3 separate regions of the Homo sapiens genome follow, and regions 2 and 3 are each linked to region 1. Evidence: fine-mapped expression QTL. A gene starts in region 1. Each other region holds a variant in brackets. All regions are shown on one strand. Distances are between the middles of the regions.

Evidence for each region. PIP is the estimated chance that this variant, and not a neighbour inherited with it, causes the effect. A credible set is the group of variants that fine-mapping cannot tell apart.
Region 2: its variant is the best candidate, but not a certain one, in a credible set for the expression of SOX4 in blood mononuclear cells (TOPMed, PIP 0.56).
Region 3: its variant is the best candidate, but not a certain one, in a credible set for the expression of SOX4 in whole blood (INTERVAL, PIP 0.80).

Annotation. Positions count from the first base shown.
Region 1 is chr6:21,591,848-21,596,088 of GRCh38, forward strand. It overlaps SOX4 (SRY-box transcription factor 4), which reads left to right and starts at 1,904. Exons shown (of 1, transcript NM_003107.3): 1 at 1,904-4,241. The coding sequence starts at 2,688. The coding sequence ends at 4,112. RefSeq lists silencers at 2,515-2,694, 3,465-3,554, 3,605-3,654.
Region 2 is chr6:22,363,200-22,367,440 of GRCh38, forward strand. It overlaps a transcript of LOC105374971 not described here. Among named protein-coding and RNA genes, the nearest start is that of PRL, 68 kb to the left of the region's middle. The variant A/G (reference allele first, on the strand shown) is at 2,334.
Region 3 is chr6:21,161,611-21,165,851 of GRCh38, forward strand. The region is part of intron 13 of CDKAL1 (CDKAL1 threonylcarbamoyladenosine tRNA methylthiotransferase); the gene reads left to right. Among named protein-coding and RNA genes, the nearest start is that of LINC00581, 350 kb to the right of the region's middle. RefSeq lists enhancers at 2,006-2,150, 2,218-2,362, 2,232-2,376 and cis regulatory regions at 2,078, 2,290, 2,304. The variant A/G (reference allele first, on the strand shown) is at 2,236.

The sequences.
Region 1 (4,241 bases):
AATTTTCAGACACTGGAAAACAAGTAATTTCTGTAGCCAACGTTTATTTTGAATACCTTGGCATCCTTTCTTTGCCACATTCTTCTTAGTATTCTTCATGGAGTTCCTTTCTTTTAAAATCAATGGAATGGCAGGGTTGCCACTATTGTCCTTCTATGGTTCACATCAATGATCTGTGATTACTTTTTTTTTTTTTTTGAGATAGTCACACGCTATCACCCACACTGGAGTGCAGTGGCTCAATCTTAGCTCACTGCAACCTCCTGGGTTCAAGCAATTCTCCCGCCTTAGCTTCTCGAGTAGCTGGAATTACAGGCGCATGCATCCCTGCCCAGCTAATTTTTTAATTTTTTAATTTTTAGTAGAGACAGGGTTTCACCATGTTGACCAGGCTGGTCTCGAACTCCTGACCTGAAGTGATCCACCCACCTTAGCCTCCCAAAGTGCTGGGATTACAGGCGTGAGCCACCGCGTCCTGCCTGTTATTACTTTTTTACATAAGTGGCTATTCTGTTTTAGCCTCTTGAACAACATGCAGCTTTTACTAGGAGTGTGTCTGGCATTTGAATTAGAAAGGAAGATATTAGTATTCATTGAGGGCTTACAATACATCAGGTGCTTCATAGTCACAAATTCATTGAACCCTCACAACAACCCTCTATAAAGTAGCTCCTAGTGTTCCCATATAATAGATGAGGAAAACTGAGACTTGGCCACATCCCCATAGTTACAAACCATTAAGAAGGATTAGCAGCCAGGTCTACTATGAATCCGGAGGCCCCATTCTCTTCTGCTACCAGTTATCACCTCCTTCTACAGTTTCTCTTTGCCTTGGTTTTTCAGTTCCCTTCGATTCAAGTAACAAGAGGAAATATATAAGAAGGAAAGGAGGAAGATGGCTTTGGGAGGAGGAGAGGGAAGAGAGTGAAGCAATCTTTAATTTTGAAAACAGGGAAAACAAATATTTAGAAAGTAAAACCGATTTCCATCCTTTACATGCCATTATACATCCTATACAAAACTCTGGAAATCTGCCTATTGAGGTAATTACGGAGCACTACCTAATGTGTTTCAAGGGAAAGCTCCCCTGTTTGGGCTATGCAGGATTTACAGGGAGTTTAAATCATTAAATAACCATAGTTGACCCTTGCTTGGTTAAGAGAGTAAGCAATTATTGCAAAGTCCTCTTCCCTGCCTTCCACAAACAGCACAAAAACGGTTCTGAAGGGATTTACACAATACATCAACATCTGTGCTGTACCTAGAGTTGTTAAAATAATTGTGATGACAGGTGTCTAGGTACCACTTTCTTAATGGTTTTCAATATCCATTGATTTATTGTTTTGTGGCTTTCTCTTCCCCTTTACAGCTTTGGCTTTAAGAAAGAGCTGGGGAACAGATTTTGCACCAGAGGCTGATTCTTTATTCCAATGCTGAAAAGAACTAATAAAAATAATCACTTGGCTTTTAAGCAGAAAGCTTCCATTTACAGTATTTCACCCTTACCCCGCCCCGTTCCAAGCCCCTTGTTATCTAACATAATGGTTAGAATACATTTCCGTCTCTCCCCTTAATAATTTCATGCATTAACATCCTCTTCACACACTATACACACACGCACGCGCGCACACACACGCGCGCGCACACACACAGCAAAAGGAAAAAAGAGGCAGCAGAAATCTCAGCTGTACTTCTAGCCCTTTTAAAAAGTTTGCTCTGTAAATTGGAATGAGGTCAGATTTGGAGCTTCTCATTGCACGCGGAGATTATTATTGCATCGGGTTCCAAGCCAATGGGAAGCCCGGGGGAGGGGTTTGGCATGAGGAAGCGTTGGTTACAGCAGCTGATTGGCTGCAGCCAAGACTGTGAAAGGATAAAGAGGCGCGAGGCGGAATTGGGGTCTGCTCTAAGCTGCAGCAAGAGAAACTGTGTGTGAGGGGAAGAGGCCTGTTTCGCTGTCGGGTCTCTAGTTCTTGCACGCTCTTTAAGAGTCTGCACTGGAGGAACTCCTGCCATTACCAGCTCCCTTCTTGCAGAAGGGAGGGGGAAACATACATTTATTCATGCCAGTCTGTTGCATGCAGGCTTTTTGGCTTCCTACCTTGCAACAAAATAATTGCACCAACTCCTTAGTGCCGATTCCGCCCACAGAGAGTCCTGGAGCCACAGTCTTTTTTGCTTTGCATTGTAGGAGAGGGACTAAGTGCTAGAGACTATGTCGCTTTCCTGAGCTACCGAGAGCGCTCGTGAACTGGAATCAACTGCTTCAGGGAAAAAGAAAAAAAAAAAAAAAAGACTTGCCTGGGAGGCCGCGAGAAACTTGCATTGGAAGCTTCAGCAACCAGCATTCGAGAAACTCCTCTCTACTTTAGCACGGTCTCCAGACTCAGCCGAGAGACAGCAAACTGCAGCGCGGTGAGAGAGCGAGAGAGAGGGAGAGAGAGACTCTCCAGCCTGGGAACTATAACTCCTCTGCGAGAGGCGGAGAACTCCTTCCCCAAATCTTTTGGGGACTTTTCTCTCTTTACCCACCTCCGCCCCTGCGAGGAGTTGAGGGGCCAGTTCGGCCGCCGCGCGCGTCTTCCCGTTCGGCGTGTGCTTGGCCCGGGGAACCGGGAGGGCCCGGCGATCGCGCGGCGGCCGCCGCGAGGGTGTGAGCGCGCGTGGGCGCCCGCCGAGCCGAGGCCATGGTGCAGCAAACCAACAATGCCGAGAACACGGAAGCGCTGCTGGCCGGCGAGAGCTCGGACTCGGGCGCCGGCCTCGAGCTGGGAATCGCCTCCTCCCCCACGCCCGGCTCCACCGCCTCCACGGGCGGCAAGGCCGACGACCCGAGCTGGTGCAAGACCCCGAGTGGGCACATCAAGCGACCCATGAACGCCTTCATGGTGTGGTCGCAGATCGAGCGGCGCAAGATCATGGAGCAGTCGCCCGACATGCACAACGCCGAGATCTCCAAGCGGCTGGGCAAACGCTGGAAGCTGCTCAAAGACAGCGACAAGATCCCTTTCATTCGAGAGGCGGAGCGGCTGCGCCTCAAGCACATGGCTGACTACCCCGACTACAAGTACCGGCCCAGGAAGAAGGTGAAGTCCGGCAACGCCAACTCCAGCTCCTCGGCCGCCGCCTCCTCCAAGCCGGGGGAGAAGGGAGACAAGGTCGGTGGCAGTGGCGGGGGCGGCCATGGGGGCGGCGGCGGCGGCGGGAGCAGCAACGCGGGGGGAGGAGGCGGCGGTGCGAGTGGCGGCGGCGCCAACTCCAAACCGGCGCAGAAAAAGAGCTGCGGCTCCAAAGTGGCGGGCGGCGCGGGCGGTGGGGTTAGCAAACCGCACGCCAAGCTCATCCTGGCAGGCGGCGGCGGCGGCGGGAAAGCAGCGGCTGCCGCCGCCGCCTCCTTCGCCGCCGAACAGGCGGGGGCCGCCGCCCTGCTGCCCCTGGGCGCCGCCGCCGACCACCACTCGCTGTACAAGGCGCGGACTCCCAGCGCCTCGGCCTCCGCCTCCTCGGCAGCCTCGGCCTCCGCAGCGCTCGCGGCCCCGGGCAAGCACCTGGCGGAGAAGAAGGTGAAGCGCGTCTACCTGTTCGGCGGCCTGGGCACGTCGTCGTCGCCCGTGGGCGGCGTGGGCGCGGGAGCCGACCCCAGCGACCCCCTGGGCCTGTACGAGGAGGAGGGCGCGGGCTGCTCGCCCGACGCGCCCAGCCTGAGCGGCCGCAGCAGCGCCGCCTCGTCCCCCGCCGCCGGCCGCTCGCCCGCCGACCACCGCGGCTACGCCAGCCTGCGCGCCGCCTCGCCCGCCCCGTCCAGCGCGCCCTCGCACGCGTCCTCCTCGGCCTCGTCCCACTCCTCCTCTTCCTCCTCCTCGGGCTCCTCGTCCTCCGACGACGAGTTCGAAGACGACCTGCTCGACCTGAACCCCAGCTCAAACTTTGAGAGCATGTCCCTGGGCAGCTTCAGTTCGTCGTCGGCGCTCGACCGGGACCTGGATTTTAACTTCGAGCCCGGCTCCGGCTCGCACTTCGAGTTCCCGGACTACTGCACGCCCGAGGTGAGCGAGATGATCTCGGGAGACTGGCTCGAGTCCAGCATCTCCAACCTGGTTTTCACCTACTGAAGGGCGCGCAGGCAGGGAGAAGGGCCGGGGGGGGTAGGAGAGGAGAAAAAAAAAGTGAAAAAAAGAAACGAAAAGGACAGACGAAGAGTTTAAAGAGAAAAGGGAAAAAAGAAAGAAAAAGTAAGCAGG
Region 2 (4,241 bases), 770 kb after region 1:
GAGATCATTTCCCCTGACTGCAAGCATTTTAGATAGAACTGGATTCAGCACCTGCTAAAGATGGGGCCTGGTGAGTGGATCCTGGATTCTTTATGGATTCTGAAGAAGGTAAACATCCCCAGGTTCATGAGCCTGTTCAGACAGGAAAGACAGTACTGATTGCAATCTGCTGTTAGTGTTTCCTTTTATATTTGTTCAGTGCTTTGAGTCATTCTTTCTCCTTTTCTTCTCTGAAACTACTAACATTGCTCCTCCAGTAGCCTTTTGCATTTACAAGCTACCTTGTCATGCCTTGGTTTTTGGGGAAGAGGAGATAGATGTAAAGTGAGGCTACTGTAAACAACAGTTCAATAGAGGCTTCAGAACAGGGTCCATTTAGGGAGGTGAGTGCAAACATTCCATGAAATAAAAAGAACCGCTTCTGTGAGCTCAACTCACAACAGGCACAGCCACTGGCAATAGCAGCCTGAGAAGGAGCAAATTTGAGAGCTGGGTCTGTTATTCTTATTTTTGTAAATCTTTGCACCTGTCTTTGGTGGCAAGATTCTCAACTCATTTCCCTTGTTTCTGTTCCTCCTCCTCCCTGCACTCCATGCCTCTCTGGGGTTCTGCTTGTTTTGGAACTAGTGATTCAAAATGGACTCCAACATTGTTTCTGAATCACAAAGCGTTTGCAGAAGAGGGAAGTATTTCTTGCTCCATTCCAAGCCCCAACACAGAAGGTGTTGTATGGAAAAGGGAGCTGAAGGGAGAAGAAAAAGAGGAGGAAAAAAAAAGAGGCAAAAGTAAAAAACTCAAGGAAATCAAGACCATGCTGTGCAAAATTGTTACAGCTGTTTCTGTTTTTATTGGCTGTTTCTTTTGGCTTCATTTTTCCAGCAACTGCAGTTCATGTGAGCAGGAAGGCATACAGCATGGCCGAGCTCCACGGTGGGCGGAGGGGAGGACAGAAAAGGGACTGAGAAAAGGATGGAAGGGGCTGGGTGTGGAGGTTATGAATTGTGGCACAGTGCTTAGAGGGGACACACATCAAAGCATTTCTTTTTTTGATAGTTTTGTGGAAGCCTTAGCAATAGAATTTAGAGGCATTTACTGGAAAGCTCCTAAAAGCATCCCATCTCCATGGCTGGATCAGATAGGTGGTCTGTTTAAGGCAGTATACTATCCTTGAAATGATGCTCTGATATCTGTGAGGAAATAATGTGTCAAGACACATCCCTTCCCCTTTCCCTCCTGGATAGTGATTCACCTAGACCAGTGCACAGGGCAGAACATACGGGAAGTGCATATTTTCCCTGGGGGACTCTATTTCTCATGGTTACAAATGGAATGAGTTATATGCCTGCTCAGTGACCCTATGAAGATATTGGCAGCTGGGATACAGCACCTCAGGGCTTGGAGCGAGTTGCTCACCCACCTTGATCCCCCTGCAAAGCAGCTGGAAGGTGAGCCAGAGACAGGCACATGAAAAAAGCTCACAATGAGTCTCTGTCTCTTTCTTAAAGCTTCCTATTAAATATGTGATTTAAATGACATTTTTAAGGTTTATAAGACTGCTTACATTGGAATTCTTGAATGTGATAGTATTTTTAACTGCACTGGCCCTAACACACACACACACGCGCACACACACACACACACACACACACGTTCGCACTGACTCTCACTCTTTTTTTTCTTTTTGAGACGGAGTCTCACTCTGTCACCCAGGCTGGAGTGCAGTGGCATGATCTCGGCTCACTGCAACCTCCACCTCCCGGGTTCAAGCAATTCTCTGCCTCAGCCTCCCGAGTAGCTAGGATTACAGGTACCCGCCACCAGGTAATAATTTTTTGTATTTATAGTAGAGACAGGGTGTCACCATTTTGGCCAGGCTGTTTTTGAACTCCTGACATCGTGATCCACCCGCCTTGGCCTCCCAAAGTGCTGGGATTACAGACTCTCACTCTTAATCAAATTAATTTTCCAAACTCTAAGGAAACATCTTTCTAAAAGTGAAAATTGTGTTCCAAATGAGGGCAAGTGGGTAAGAGAACTGGAAGTTAGAAGATAGAGCAAGAGGAAAAAGTATTTACTTATATTTGACTTGCAGTTATATCCGAAGGGAAAATACAATAAAAAGTTGATTAATAACAACAAAACCTCCCTATATCTGGTGATAAAACATTGTTTGCATGCTTTCACATTTTAAACAAAATTCCAGCTATGCTGTAGAATGAGAGGTGAGCCAGAATCCCAGTGCCCATGCATTGGTTCTGTTTTGGAGACTTGGTTTTACTCTGAACTGGGCTTCTGACTTACTTGGCTACTGGAGGGCAAATCATAACCAATAT[A/G]TCTCAGTGCTGTCATCCAAAAATGGAGGTGGACTTGGGAAGATGGACTAATTAAAGGTTGCAAAGCACTTTTGAGTCTATAAAGCCATATGTAATTGCAACCATTAAACCTAGTAATATAATGAAGTGTTGAAAGTTGTGTCTTCGTCATTTTGTTTTCTAAATTCAGTGAGAGACTCCTTCAAAGCCCATTCTGTTTACTTTCCCAAGGAAATTGTCTCAGTCCATTTTCTGTTGCTGTAACAGAACACCTAAGACTAGGTAATTTATAAAGTAAAGCGATTGATTGGCTCTAGAGGTTGGTAAGTCCAAGAATGAGGGGTTGCATCTGGTAAGGGCCTTCTTGCTGTGTCATAAAATGGCAGAAAGCATGACATGGTGAGAGAGAGCAAGAGTAGGCCAAATTCAGCTTTTATAGCAAGCTTCTGATAAGAATCCATTCATCCAGAGTCCTCATGACATAATCACCTCTTAAAGGTCCTACCTCTCAACACTGTTGCACTGGGGATTAACTTTCCAACACATTAACTGTGGAAAACACATTCAAACCATAACAGAAATTAATGAATGAAAAAACTGGTGATTTGGGCCAATGCGCTCTTGAACAGTTATGTATTTTGAGATATACCAAGCTTTTTTCTGCATTTCCTAATATTATTTTTATGTTCATTATGTTACTATTAAACATTTTTTCATTACGTTATTATTTTCTTATGTATTAATAGTAGTTAATAATACATTTACCAAGAATTAAATTTGTTTAAAATTTCGCAGTTGGGGCAGAGTTTACCAAATGTGGAGTGAGCCTATCTGTTGTGAAATAGAACTCACTAACCTCTTAACACAGGAAAATCAGTGATTTCATCAGATTAGAATTACATAGAGAAGCTATTCTCTGGGTGCAAAGATTGAAATTGCTTCTTGTGAAAGACACAGTTTCACAATTTCTTGTGAAATTGTTTCTTGTATCTAGTTTAAAACAGACACAAGAGAAACTTCATATGTAGTGCTGACACGTAAAGAGTTGGAGAATGAGTTGTCCCTTTGCGCCTCAACTTCTCCCTCAATGTCATGGTGGGCAAAATTATTTTGCCTTAGGCTTTAGCTGTAAAATGGGTTGCTAGCACTTGACCACAAATGGAATAATTACAATGAGGTTTGGAAGCCTACAGCATTTGTATTGAGGACATTTCCCCCTTGTGCATCTGTTAACTGTTATTACAGATTTGAGATACCATTAATCAGTAGCATCTTTAACAAATGTAGAGTAGATTTTTGCATACTGAGGTTCAGCCAGGCACCCCCATTAGCTGGCATACATTGGACCTCACTTGCAAAAACATGTTTCTGCTGTTATTCTTACAGAAGGCTGTATGTTCACACACATGCACAATTATGAGACTGAACACTCCCTTCTTCTTTGGATTGCTCTTTGATCTTTTGTAATTTTGCTGCTTGTGTCCATATGGAAATGTTAGCAACCAGCAGGCAATTCCTTTCTATTATGATTCCTCCTGATTCCTCCTCCATTGTCTTTCCCCTTGTTGTTTCTTGTTTGCATTGGGCTCCAGACTGATGCCAACATTTCAACGGGGTACACCTCATCAGTTTCAAAAGCTCAATTTGCTTTAAGTAGCCAGCAAAGCTTACCCTTATTTTTAAGTACCTGTTTATACCTGAGTTTCCCTGACATGCAATGACAACTTGGGCATCTCAAGAGAAACAGTTTTCTTGTGAGCCTGGAGACCTATGGGATTAGGCATGTAGGTCATAAATGCTGTCAGCATTAAGCTTGTTTTTAGTGCAGTGCTCTCTGGATTTCCATTTTGGTCTTTAATGACTAGGAGTACATATAATAACACACAGGCATGACCTCATCCAAAGACAATTTATTTAAAAATTGTCTTG
Region 3 (4,241 bases), 430 kb before region 1:
GATTTATAAAGTCTCTGAATATATATTTTTAACTATACACATAAAAATTAAATTTAGAGAAAAGAGTCTCAAAATTCACTCTTCTGTAAAGCTAACATATAAACTCTGCTTCTGCATGGCTTCTTTTATGGGCTTGGAGTAATTAAGCAGACATAATATAACACATAAAGGAATTTATTAGGCTTTTATTAAGGCTTGATAATTTGAGTTTCAGATTTTAAATCTCAAAGGGCTCATAATTGTTGTCATTTTCTACTAAAAGCTGCATTTAGAAAGAAGTTAAACTGTGGTGCAAAGGAAAGGCACGTTTCAATGGAAAATTCAAAATGCCTTTTTCATTAATTCAGCACTTGAATGCAAGTGCCTATTGTGCCTAGCGGGAGGCTTTTAATAAGTAATACAGACGCTGCTTACATGACTTAATTTATGCCGATATTTTCTTGAAACTGTGTTAGTTGCAGGAAGTAGAGGTTTGAGGTTGAGATATGTCCTGGTAGAGAGGGAAGAGATTATTTCAAACTCCAGAAATGTGAGTGAATTCTAATTTGCCAAGCCAATTTAAGTCTTAGAAGTAAGGTTTTTAATTTCACTATTGACTCAAGAAATCACTGGGACCATTCCAGGTCTCTGCAGGATGAATTTTGGAATAGTTTGTAACATTGAACAGCCATCTTCTGATTAAACATCTTCTCTCCTTGTTAACTCCTAATTCCCCATAAAATAATCTATTTGGGGTCATGGAAATGTTCCCCAACAAAAGCAATACTTTAAAATTTAAGAAACCTAGAACTGAAAGCTGAACCTCTGATGGAAAACAGGTAAATGGGGCATTGAACTCTGAGGCCCATTCCATGGTTTTGCCCAGAACCAGCTCTGGCCTTGAGATTTGAGTTAGCAGAATTCCAGTTAACTGAAACTTTGCTCTAGAATTGAAAGTAAAAACAAAAGCCACCTGACTCAATCAGTCTCAGCATCACATATGTAACTTCCTTGATGCTTGTTAGCTTTGAAGGACCTAGAAAAAGTCTGGCCTGCTGGGCACAGTAGCTGACGCCTGTAATCCTAGCTACTCAGGAGGCTGAGGTGGGAGAATCGCTGGAGCCCAGGGGTTTGAGACCAGCCTGGGCAACATAGCAAGACCTTGTCTCTAAAAAAAAGGTTTTCTTAATTAGTTGGGTGTGGTGGCATGTGTCTGTAGTCCCAGCTGCTCAGGAGGCTGAGGTGGGAGGATCACTTGAGCCCAGGAGTTTGAGGCTGTAGTGTGCAATGATCACACCTATGTATAGCCACTGCACTCCAGCCTGGGCAACACAGCAAGAACTCATCTTGATGGAAGAAAGAAAGGAAGGAAAGGACAAGAGGGAAAGGGGGAGGGAGGAAGAGAGAGAGGGCCTGGCTTGAATAGCTTAACTAATGCCACAGCTGAACCCTTCTATGGTAATCACAGTGAGGCCAACTGGGACAGAACAATATTAGGAATCAACTCCCTAGCACACAAAATCTGCCTTTAAATTTAAGCCTGATGTATAACGCTAGCAAATGCCCGTTTTGCCTCCTCCTCACTGCCAGCACAACCTTGCCTTGTGCAAAAGTCACTTCTCTTGAGATTACTGCAGATGTGGTGGTTGTTCCTGAGTTCTCGTTCATGAGCCACCTTCCTGGGGTCGGTTTTATAACCTCCTCCACTTCATTCTCTCAGTGATGCAGAGGCCTCACATACATCATTAGCTGCTTTAGACTGGATCCTGACCTCTTAATCTTCACAGTAACCCAAAACAAACACCCGCTTGGGGCCACCGGCAGAACCCACCGTGGTTTGGGAATACAGTAGCCTTTAGTGTCTTGATTTCAAGTCACCATCTTTTTCACTTTCCTCATCTGTTTCTTTTTCATCCTAGTCATGTTCCCTCTCCCTCAAAAGTTCTTTAACCAATCATCCAAAATCCTTACTGTGGAGGCCTCTAAACCACAGGCGTTTGTCAGATGAAAATCAGAAAAAGGCATGTGGTGTTGAGTCATAATCTTAAACTTTGTAGTCTTGAAATAATGCTGTTATCTGGCCGGGCGCGGTGGCTCATGCCTGTAATCCCAGCACTTCAGGAGGCCGAGAGACGGGTGGATCACCTGAGGTCAGGAGTTTGAGACCAGCCTGGCCAACATGGCAAACCCCATCTCTACTAAAAATACCAAAATCAGCCAGGCATGGTGGTGCATCCTGTAATCTCAGCTACTTGG[A/G]AGGCTGAGGCAGGAGAATCCCTTGAACCTGGGAGACGGAGGCTGCAGTAAGCCAACATCACACCATTACACTCCAGCCTGGGCAAGAGGAGCGAAACTCTATCTCAAAAACAAAAAAAGAAAAGAAAAAGAAATAATGTGTCTATTTTAGTTATTAATTAGGCTCCCTGTCCCTAGCATTGCCCCTCTACCTAGCTCCAGAATGACCTATTCCACTGCTCCTAATTGTTGGTCTACTAAATGCTGGTCCAGGATGACATTTTCACCAAACTGCAGAAGAGATAAGAAAAACAAAGACAGTACAACTTACAGCTTAAATTGATGATTTAAAAGATTTAAAATCACTTCCTATTTTGAAATGATTTATTGTGATCATAGATTTGAAATTTTAAAAAATTATGTACCTGCTTGTAGAATGAAAAGTACACAACCTTATAAACAAGCTGGGTTTTTTAAAAAATTTCCACTCATTTTACTAGCATTTAGAATCTCAAAAACTGGGACCTAGATTTAGCCAGAACCCAGAAAACTGGGACCTAGGATCTAGCCAGAACCCAGATTTAACCTCACTGCCATGCCTCATACCCTATAGCAGCCACTGTAACCTACAAAAGCAAGTCCAGGTGCTTCAACCATAACACACACAGACCGGGGCTGGCCCTTTACCACTATCCATCATTGTCTCCCAGCATTCCCTGTCCTGGAACTAAATTGGCTTGATGCCATTTATGCCTAATATTGCTAGCCAGGTAAAATCCATCCATGATGGTCAAGTGTAAACTTAGAAGCTTATATTCATAAACACAGACTCAAAAATTCTCAGCATCAAAGATGAGGTCAGAATGCCCCCTCATCTTCCCTGACTACTTTCTGCTTGAAACAGGCTTCCCGCCTTTATAAACTGGATTCACTGTATTCATCATCCTTGAAGCTTGACTTGACCAGCTTTGTGCCAGCCTTTAAGCCACCACTGTAGCTTGCCTCTTCATCAACAGCATGTATACATAATATTGGAAAGAATCTTTTTAAAAAAATGTCTTTGCCATCACTAGGCTGTAAAGCTCCACCAGAGGAATCTAATTCATCTTCATGGCATAGCACACACTGGGAAGATTTCTCTTTAAACTGAAATGAACGAATAGACAGCTAAGATGTGGTTAATCAATGTGAAAGCAAAAACCCTTTCTTTCCTCCTTCCCCAGGTGTCTCTTCAAAGGAATAAACTTCCTTCCTGGCCAAAGCCTTGTGGCAAAGTAATTGACCACAGCTTTGACAGCAACAAAGATGACCTCTTCACATCCACTTCCTTAGCCCTTTCCTTCCACTTTCTGTTTCAGGAGAAGAAGGACCATTTTGTTGTTATTAAAATGACTATGCTGTTCTAAGAATTTCTGACTGATTACTCCACTCCTGCCATCAGCTTCTTCTTTACGGCCCAACTCTCCTAAAATATGGTGCTGGATTTGTTGTGTTGTAGAGTAAAAATAATATTGTTATTGTGAATTCTAAGGTCAAAATATAAAGAGTCAGAAAAATAGCTGATAGCTAATGGATTCTTTTTATTTACTCCGAACAGTTCTAAAAGGATATAGCAAATATGTTCATAGCTTCTTTTTACTTTTGGGAGTTTTTACATTTGGGATAATTATTAAAAATCTTTATAATTATCCATCTCCTTCATTTTGCTTTACAGAGAAGGAAATATTGAAGTTAAATGCTCTGATTTGAGAGCTCGTAGAAGAAACAACATTAGTAAATTACTGTGTTGACGTATAGTTCTCATTTTCATAGTATTTTCCATTTCATTCAACCAAAGGCATTTCTTTAGCACTGACCATGTCATGTGGTAGCTGCTGAGGACAGAGGATGAGTAGGACACTTCTTACTGCCTGAGTCAAGGAGGCTACTAGGAGAGTCTGTACTCTGCGATGACAGCACAGTGCATGGCATCCTATGAGCGTGCTGACTTAAAAGAGAGAGAGCTTTACGCACCTGTGGGCAGGAGT